Linked DNA regions of Homo sapiens. The protein of the gene in region 2 purifies or fractionates together with the protein of the main gene of each other region. This does not show direct contact. Each region holds a gene or a part of one and is shown on either strand. Other genes may lie near its edges.

What was found.
Region 1: the proteins of SLC22A13 (region 2) and CMSS1 purify together in Homo sapiens (affinity purification with mass spectrometry; one large-scale study listed by BioGRID and IntAct). This does not show direct contact.

Annotation. Positions count from the first base shown.
Region 1 is NC_000003.12:100,178,844-100,182,928, reverse strand, and holds the end of CMSS1 (protein CMSS1), read right to left. Parts: 3' UTR 1,197-4,085; downstream 1-1,196.
Region 2 is NC_000003.12:38,267,765-38,273,522, forward strand, and holds part of SLC22A13 (solute carrier family 22 member 13), read left to right. Parts: intron 1-5,758. UniProt on the Homo sapiens protein: Anion antiporter that mediates the transport of urate, orotate and nicotinate in exchange for organic or inorganic anions. Translocates urate and orotate across the apical membrane of proximal tubule epithelial cells and involved in urate renal reabsorption.

The sequences.
Region 1 (4,085 bases), about 62 Mb from region 2:
TCCTCTGATACAATCATACTTGATGGCTTTTTTTCCACATTAATCTAAGACGTCACTTGACAGGAAGTTAAATGCCTCTATTGAGAAGGTATGTGGTCCATTTTCTTTCTTACCATTGGCCAAGAATATCTCACCTGTTAGGGTTAAAGGGATGAAAGTGATAGGGTTAAGTTTAGCGATAGCTTAATGTTCATTCTGTGGTGGTTTTTTTTCTTTTAACTTACTGGACTCTAGTGGGAATCCTGGAGAATGGAACCTACTCCTCTTTCCTCTGAGTTCCTGTGTGTGGATTTCAGGCCACAGAGGTGCAAGGTGCATGAACAACAAGGTGCTGGTGTGCAGGCCTGTGTGATTTCCTGGATTTTGACTTGCTAGCCTGTTAGGCTCATTTACAATTTCACAAAATTGGAATGTAGAATTTTATATATCAGTAATGGCATCTGTTTGCTTTCCTATCTCGTTTGCTGTATATGCTTGAGTCTCCAGATAAGTTGGGTGTCTTGAAGTGGATATGGGAGACCTGGGTCTGACTTCTGGTTCTGCTACTTAAACTAGTGTATGTCCCTTCTCAGATTTAGTTTCATTGTCTATACAATGTGACTTACTTTTTCTTTTGGGACTATTTCAGTGATTAAACATGACAGCTTATATATAAATGAAAGTTGTAAACACAGTGCTTGGCACAGAGTGGGTAACCAATCAACATTATTTAAATGAGTAAGAAAAGTGAATTTGAGCAAAAAAATAAAAAACAATACTATTACCTTATAACTCATAGAATAAAATAAGTATCAATGAGTCCATACTGATGTAAATAAATAATTGAACAAACAAGGAAATGGGGGAAAGGAGATAATTCTTTCTTAAAGAGGAATTCTGTAATAAATGTAACACATGTTGAAGGAATGAGAAAAATAGAAAAACCATTACAGTAATGGCTGTCGCAGGCAAGAACTACCAATATTTGCTAGAATTAGCAGGCAAAAGTTTGAGGAAAAACAGATATTTGTATAGCCTCAAAGTACTGCCCCTAAAATAGATATTAATTACAAAGGGAAAATAATAACTTTATAGAAAAAACTGGCAGATACCACCTTAGCCAGGTGATCAAGGTTGACATCACTGGTAATAAGACATATTAACATTATGTACCCCTGATATAATAAATCCAGAAGGACATACTCACTTCTGTGGTATTCTGGTCAAAAAATGCATAACTTTAATCAAATCATGAGAACATTACAGACAAATCCAAATTGAAGGACATTCTACAAAATACACGATGGATACTGTTCAAAAGTGTGAAGGTCATGAAAGACAGGGAAATACTGAGGAACTGTCACTGGTCTGAAGAAACCAAAAAGATACAACAACTAAGTAAGTGCAATGTGGGATCCTGCAGTGAATCCTGGAATAGAACAAGGACATTAGTGGAAAAATTGGAGAAATCCAAATAAACTCTGTAGTTTAGTTAATTATACAGTACCAGTGATGACTTCTTAGTTTTGATAACTCTATTATGGTTATACAAGAATTTAACACAGGGAAAGCTCAGGGAAGGGGATATGGGAATTCTCTATTTTTTAAACTTTTCTATTAAGCCTGAAGTTTCAAAATAGAAAGTTTTTAAAAAAAAGTTAATAAGACAGCTGTAATTATATTGTTGTCTTTTTATACGTTTACAAAGGGCCAAATTCACTTGATGCTCTTTCTACCACTACCCTGCTGATGTGGTTTGGCTGTGTCCCCACCCAAGTTTCATGTCGAATTGTAATTCCCAGTGTTGGGGGAGGGATCTGGTGGGAGGTGATTAGATCATGGGGGCAGATTTCCCCCTTGCTGTTCTCATGATAGTGAGTTCTCAAGAGATCTGATTGTTTAAAAGTGTATAGCACTTCCCCCTTCACTCTCTTGCTCTCTTGTTGCCACAAGATGTGGTTGCATCCCTTTCATCTTCTGCCATGATTGTAAATTTCCTGAGGCCTCCCCAGCCATCCTCCTGTACAGTCTGTGGAACTGGAAGTCAATTAAACCTCTTTTCATTATAAACTACCCAGTCTCAGGTAGTTCTTCATAGCAGTGTAAAAATGGAAGAATACAAAAAATTGGTACCAGAGAAGTGGGACATTTCTATAAAGATACCTAAAAAATGTGGAAGCAACTTTGAAACTGGGTAACGGGGAGAAGTTGCAACAGTTTGGAAGGATCAGAAGAAGACAGGAATATGAGGGATGTTTGGAACCTCCTAGAGACTTGTTGAACAGTTTTGACCAAAATGCTGATAGTGATATGGACAATGAAGTCCAGGCTGAGGTGGTCTCAAATGGAGATGAGGAACTTATCAGGAACTGGAGCAAAGGTCACTCTTGCTATGCTTTAGCAGAGACTGGTGGCATTGTGCCCCTGCTTTAGGGATCTGTGTAACTTTGAACTTGGGAGAGATGACTTAGGGTATCCGGCAGAAATTTCTAAGCAGCAAAGTGTTCAAGAGGTGGCCTGGTTGCTTCTAAAAGCCTATGCTCATTTGCATAAGCAGAGATAACTTATATTTAAAAGCAAAGCAGAGTATAAAAGCTTGAAAATTTGCAGCCTGACCATGTGGTAGAAAAGAAAAGCCATTTTCTGGGGAGAAATTCAAGCTCACTGCAGAAGTTTGCACAAGAGGAGCCAAATGTTAATAGCCAAAACAATGGATAAAATGCCTCCAGGGCACTTCAGAGACCTTCGTGGCAGCCCTCCCCAGCCCCACCAAACAGGCCCAGAGGCCTAGGAGGAAAAAAATGGTTTCGTGGGCTAGGCCCTGGGCCCAGCTGCTCTGTGCAGCCTTAGGACATGGCAGCCTAATTCCCAGCTGCCCCAGCTCCAGCTGTGACTAAAAGGGGCCAAGGTACAGCTGAACCATTGCTTCAGAGGGTGCAAGCCCCAAGCCTTGGCAGCTTCCACGTGCTGTTGGGCTTATGGGTGTGCAGAAGGCAAGAGCTGAGGTTTGGGAGCCTCTGCCTCAATTTCAGAGGATGTATGGAAACGCCTGGATGTCCAGGCAGAAGTCTGCTACAGGGGTGAAGCCCTCATGGAGAGCCTCTACTAGGGCAGTGCAGAGGGGAAATGTGGGGTTGGAGACCCTACACAGAGTCCCCACTGGGGCACTGCCTAGTGGAGCTGTGAGAAGAGAGCCATCATCCTCCAGACCCCAGAATGGTAGATCCACTGACAGCTTACACTGTGTACCTGGATATGCTGTAGGCACTCAACACCAGCCTGTGAAAGCAACCATGGGGACTGTACCCTGCAGAGCCACAGGGGCAGAGCTGCCTAAGGCCTTGGGAGCCCACTCCTTGCATCAGAGTGGCCTGGATGTGAGACATGGAGTCAAAGATTATTTTGGAGCTTTAAGATTCAAAGAGTGCCCTGCTGGGTTTCAAACTGGCATGAGGCCTTTAGCTCCTTTGGGCCAGTTTCTCCCACTTGGAATGGGAGCATTTACCCAATGCCTGTACCTCCATTGTATCTTGGAAATGACTAACTTGTTTTTTATTTTACAGGCTCATAGGTGGAAGGAAGTTGCCTTGTCTCAGATCAGACTTTGGAGTTGGACTTTTCAGTTAATGCTGGAATGAGTTAAGACTTTGGGGGACTGTTGAGAAGGCATGATTGTGTTTTGAAATGTGAGAAGAACATGAAATTTGGAAGAGGCCGGGGTGGAATTGACATGGTTTGGCTCTGTGTCTCCACCCGAATCTTATGTTGAATTATAATTCCCAATGTTGGGGGAGGGACCTGGTGGAAGGTGACTGGATCATAGGGACAGATTTTCCCCTTGCTGTTCTGCTGTTCTCATGATAGGGAGTGAGTTCTCACAAGATCTAGTCGTTTAAAAGTGTGTGGCATTTCTCCCTTCACTCTCTTGCTCTCTTGTCGCCATGTGAAGATGTGCTTGCTTCCCCTTCACCTTCTGCCAAGTTTCCTGAGGCCTCTCAGCCATGCCTCCTGTACAGCCTGTGAAACTGTGAGTCAATTAAACCTCTTTTCTTTATAATCTACCCAGTCTCGGGTAGTTCTTTATAGCAATGTGAGAATGGATTAAT
Region 2 (5,758 bases):
TTCCGGGGGAATGGGCAGGCAACTTTCTGAAGGAAGTGGTATGTGTGAACTGGGGCACCAAGATACTAGAAAAATGTTGCTAGAGAAGAGGGGAAGGCCTCTGCAGGTGGAGAATAAGAATAGCACAGGAAAGGCCTGGCAGCAGGAAGCAGGCAGGATGTCTGGGGAGCAGTGGGTGTGCCTGCAATGGGGTCAGGGTGGAGGGGTAGGGGTATAGGAATTAGATGGATGTTTTCAAGGATTTGGGACCTCTGTTCTTTGGTGTTTGTTTGACACATCTGAAAAGAATGCATACACAAAGAATTATCATGTGAGAAAGCATTGGTTAACGCTAAGGTAATAATTAGGATTTGTGGAAGGTGGAAAAAATTACCTAAACATTTTTAGCAATTGGGAACTGCAAAATAAGCCGATAACATCCCTGTTAACACTTAGGAAGAGTCTTCATTCATGACATCTGTTAAACTAGAGAGCCTCCATTGGCTGTTGGAAGGTTCCTCAAACACAAAACAGAAACAAGGGGAGTCCCTTGACTGGTTCCCATGTTCTTAAGTGTTCTCCCCGCCCCTTCTCCAACCTCAGCTCCTCGATGAAGCAGACCTCCATAACTTGAAAGAGGGTGTTATCATTCCATAGACATCTATCTTATACAGAGCATCACCCTCACATTTCTTCTACATGCTGGGTCTTCAGCTGCGTTCTAGGAACACCATGTCACACACTCTTAAGCTGCACATTTATGCTAAGCATATGAGAGAATGACAGGAAAGACTTTTTTTCAGATTATGAACTCACTCCATTTAGTGTATTTCAGAAGGTGCATACTTCTCTTCATCTGTCAGTGAAAGAAGTTGGAAATTAACTTTGAAAAATAAATCAGCAAATAGCAAATTTTCTCAAAAGTTACAGTCACGTATATAGGGCAAGAAATGAGGAAGGGCAAGACAGACTCCACCCACATTAGTGAGTTTCATCAAACACCCAAGGGTGGAGAGAAAAGGCAGCTTTCAGAAAGGACTGTGTTATGAAATGAGGCAGGTGGGGAATGTGTTTTCTAAACTAGATCTAGGAAGTGGAATGTGGAATCAATCTGTCCTCCTCCCTTTAAGGACTGTCCACTGGTTAATAAATTTTTTAAAAGACTAAAAAATAAACTCCTCACACACAAACACCCGCAAAACAAACAAACAAACAAACAAACAAAAAAAACAGCATTAAGATGTCCCATGTTACTCTCGAGGGGAACCAAGGAGCAGCTTAACAATTAGCATTAGTGTACTAGAGAGTCATTACAAGCATGCCTTGCTTTTAAGCAAACAAAAAAATTTTTTGAAGCAACAGAACAAACGAGTACTGATCACTTTTCTGACAATAAACAATGATTCAAAAGTAACTAGTATTAGGATGGGGAAGGGAACCATACCTATGAGCCTTGTCTTGCAAGAGTATATGTTGGTAGGATTAGGCATTTGTCATTATTGCAGAGAATGAACTTCAATTTTTTTTTTTTTGAGACAGGGTCTTGCTCTGTCACCCAGGCTGGAGTGCAGTGGCGAGATCTGGGCTCACTGCAACCTCCACCTCCTGGGTTCAAGTGATTCTCTGACCTCAGCCTATCAAGTAGCTGGGACTACAGGCATGCACCACCATGCCCGGCTAATTTTTATATTTTTAGTAGAGATGGGGTTTCACCATGTTGGCCAGAGTGGTCTCGAAGTCCTGACCTCAGGTGATCCACCCGCCTCAGCCTCCCAAAGTGCTGGGATTACAGGTGTGAGCCACCGCGCCTGGCCTAATTTTTAATTCTTAGTTTGACTTAAACCTTGCTTTTAGTGTGATGGCGACAAAAGCTGAGCTGAAAGGGCTTTGGAGAGATGTTCACAGCAGCACATGCCTGAGGCTCTCTCTTCTTTGGCTCTGGAGGCTTGGTTAACAGCATTCTTTTTTTATTTTATTTTATTATTATTATACTTTAAGTTTTAGGGTACATGTGCACCATGTGCAGGTTAGTTACATTTGTATACATGTGCCATACTGGTGTGCTGCACCCATTAACTCGTCATTTAGCATTAGGTATATCTCCTACAGCTATCCCCTCCCCCCTCCCCCCACCCCACAACAGTCCCCAGAGTGTGATGTTCCCCTTCCTGTGTCCATGTGTTCTCATTGTTCAATTCCCACCTATGAGTGAGAATATACGGTGTTTGGTTTTTTGTTCTTGCGATAGTTTACTGAGAATGATAATTTCCAATTTCATCCATGTCCCTACAAAGGACATGAACTCCTCATTTTTTATGGCTGCATAGTATTCCATGGTGTATATGTGCCACATTTTCTTAATCCAGTCTATCATTTTTGGACATTTGGGTTGGTTCCAAGTCTTTGCTATTGTGAATAATGCCGCAGTAAACATACTTGTGCATGTGTCTTTATAGCAGCATGATTTATAGTCCTTTGGGTATATACCCAGTAATGGGATGGCTGGGTCGAATGGTGTTTCTAGTTCGGTTAACTGCATTCTTTAGGCCCTTCTCTGTGAGTGCAGAATGCTCTGCATACTCAACAGCCTTCCAGTCCGAGGCCAGTCTGGAGTGATAGGCTTCTGTTTTTTGTTCTTGGCAAGTTTTACAAGAGTAGAGGGATCATTCTCTGAGATGAATTTGGGTCTCGACAAGCAAGAAAGGAATCTTTGGATAGCGGTGAGTTATCACAGGCACCCACTTTTCTTTCACATTTTTGAATGAGGACGGAGATACCACTGAAAAACTGACTAGAAATACATCTGTTTGTAGATACTTAGCAATTGCAATCTTTTATAACCCTCTTGCCCAGAAGTGTCAAAAAGTCCAAGAGCATATGGCTCTCCACCAACCATAACCATGACCACATAGTTGTTAGAAATAGTTGGTACATTTTCAGATGTAAATTTGTTTGTTGTGTAGGATATCGGTATGTTTTACCAATGGCATCATTGCTTACAACAGCACACTTAATGGTCTGCATTGCTGAAATAGTTTTGTATTTACTTTAAATATTTCGAACTTGATGTTGACCTCAGCTTCTCCCTGGGGCATGGCGGCACTCAGGACCTCTCTCCTAGACAGTGCTGGCATTGCAGTTGGAACTTGGGCCTCTCACTCTACCCTAACATGCTCTCCTCACCCCAACTCTTCCAAAGACTGTGACTCCCAAGGAAATGAATGCTTTGTGCCCTGCACCACATGCTAATCCCAAGCTCAGTTCCAGAGTGCAGCTGGCTTTGTGTGATCTTCTATCTCTGGTTTTCATCTATGAGGAAGGGTTCTGCCCATTGACCCAGAGGACCCTCTCTGAGCTGACACCTAAGCTTCTTTATTATAAATGGTGACTTCATATTTAAACTTAAATGCAAACAATACTAATTTGAAAAGAGAAAAGTATATTTCCATATAGGCTGTGTGCTCTTGAAGGTCAGAATATGTTTCTCCTTTTCAACCTACATTTCCTGGGCGTCCACCCTTGGTAAAAGAAAAAAAATGGGCTGGGTGCAGTGGCTCGTGCCTGTAATCCCAACACTTTGGGAGGCTGAGGCAGGAGGATCACTTGAGCCCAAGAGTTCAAGACCAGCCTGGGCAATATAGTGAGACCTCATCTCTACAAAAAAATAAAATAATCAGCCAGGCATGGTGGCACATGCCTATAGTCTCAGCTACTCCAGAGGCTGAAGTAGGACAATCGTTTGAGCTAGTAGTAAGCCGTATTCATGCCACTGCACTCCAGCCTGGGGAGACGCTTTCTCAAAAAAAAAAAAAAAAAAAAAAAAAAATGACTCCCCTGTCTACGTGGACCTTGGAATGGGAAGGTGGGAAGACCATCAATGAATAGCAACAATCATGTGATCTGTCCAGCGACCAAAGAAGTAGGAATAGGAGAGAAGGGGAAGCAGAAAGAACAACCATTTCTGGGGTCTGGAGGCGTGAAAATGCCTGGCATATTTAGGAATGCTGACATGGCAAAAGAGACTGGGAAATAGGCAACAGCTAGCTCTTCAAGGGCCTTAGATATAGTGCTAAGGAATTTGGGCTTTCTCCTAGAGGCCAAAGGGAGCTGTTGAAGGTTTTGGAATAGGGGAGGGATCCGGGATGGGGTATACGCCAAGAAATGAGGGTGGGATTCTGCAGACCACCATGGCAGGCTGCAGACAGAACCATCCACTGTGGGTGTTGGGGCTGGGGAGGATGACTGGCATCCCAAGTTGGAGCCCTCTTCATCTCTACCACCTGCAACATGACAACACCATGAGAGCTCAGGCATATCTCGGCGCCTCTCCAAGCCTCAGTCTCTGCTGCTGCACAAGGGGAATGATAAGCCATTATGGGGTTAGAATGAGGATTTAATGTCATAGCAGGTATATAAACTGAAGAGAGGTAGTGAATGGTGGCTGTTGACCAGGTGTGCCAGCCTTAGAAGACTCCAAGGCTTGGTGCTCATGCCCACAGGGCACTTCACCCCCTTGTGTCTGAGCTGTCTGCCACCAGGTGAGAGCTTTGTGAGCACAGAGGCCAGCACAGCCTCACCCTACATAACAGGTGCTGAGAGCTTCGTGTGACATAGCCACTGAGCTAACCATGTTACAAATGTTAGTTCCTTTCATTATATCAGGTGATACTATATAGCATATTTTATTCACATTTTGTAGTGGGAAACCAAGACACAGACAGATGGGCTAACAGGCTCAAGGTCACACAAAGCCACTCAATTCTGACTCCTGAGCCTGGGAACAGTAGGCCTTTATTATTAGTTATTTTAAATGCCATCTTACTACAAAGGCAATCTGTGGCTGCTAGACAAAAACCAAACAGGATAGAACTGGCTGGAGCAACAATTTCAAGTCCCCTGTCCTTCCCTACTTCATTCCCAGGGGCAATCAGTTCATCACTTGATACATGTTGAAAGTTCTTGAAAATTAACAGTTGTCCTTAAGAACAGAAGTATGAGCACAATGGTAACTCCTGGACTGGTTAATTTCTTGCTAAAAGTTATTTAACTGATGGTGATTGGTTAATTAGCTAGCTGTAGGCATTAGTTTATGTCTTCATTTATTCATTCATTCAGCAGACATCCTCTTAGCCTTCACTCAGATTCATTCCCTGTCTAGGGCAAGAGAGATGTCTCAACTCTACCAGCTGCCATCCAGCTGTAGGACCAAGGGTTAGCTGCTTAAACTTTCCTTTCTCGGGAAGTTGATAATAAGTGAAGGATTATTATTAGAATTCTGTGAGATCATGCATGTAAAGTGTTTAGCAAGCACCCAGCACAGGGTAAGTGCTCAGTGGTTGCTGCTGGGAAGCTGGAGGAGAGCTCACATGACGGTTCCCCAACAAACATTTGTGTGTGGAACTGGGCTGTGTTCAAGAGGCATGGCGGGACTCCCTAAGGGGCCCACAAACCCCATGGGGTGGGGGTCAGTCAAGTGAGTCAAGTGCACATACAATAGACGTGTGTACAGAGTGGTATGGACCCAAATATCTTCTCCTCTTGGTTTCTCAGGCTGTGGGATTCTCTCTATAGGTCTTGGGTGGATTAGCATTCTCTGTGTCTCTCTCTTTCTCTGTCACACACCTGCACATTCTCTCATTCTCTCCCTCCCTCCCTCTGTGTGTGCGTGTGTACGTGTGTGTGTGTTCCTCTCTCCTAATCGCCTTCCTCAGGGCATGTGTGAGGGCTCCTTAGGATTCTGATTGCCTGTGAATGGTGGGTACTTCAGGGGGATTTTGCA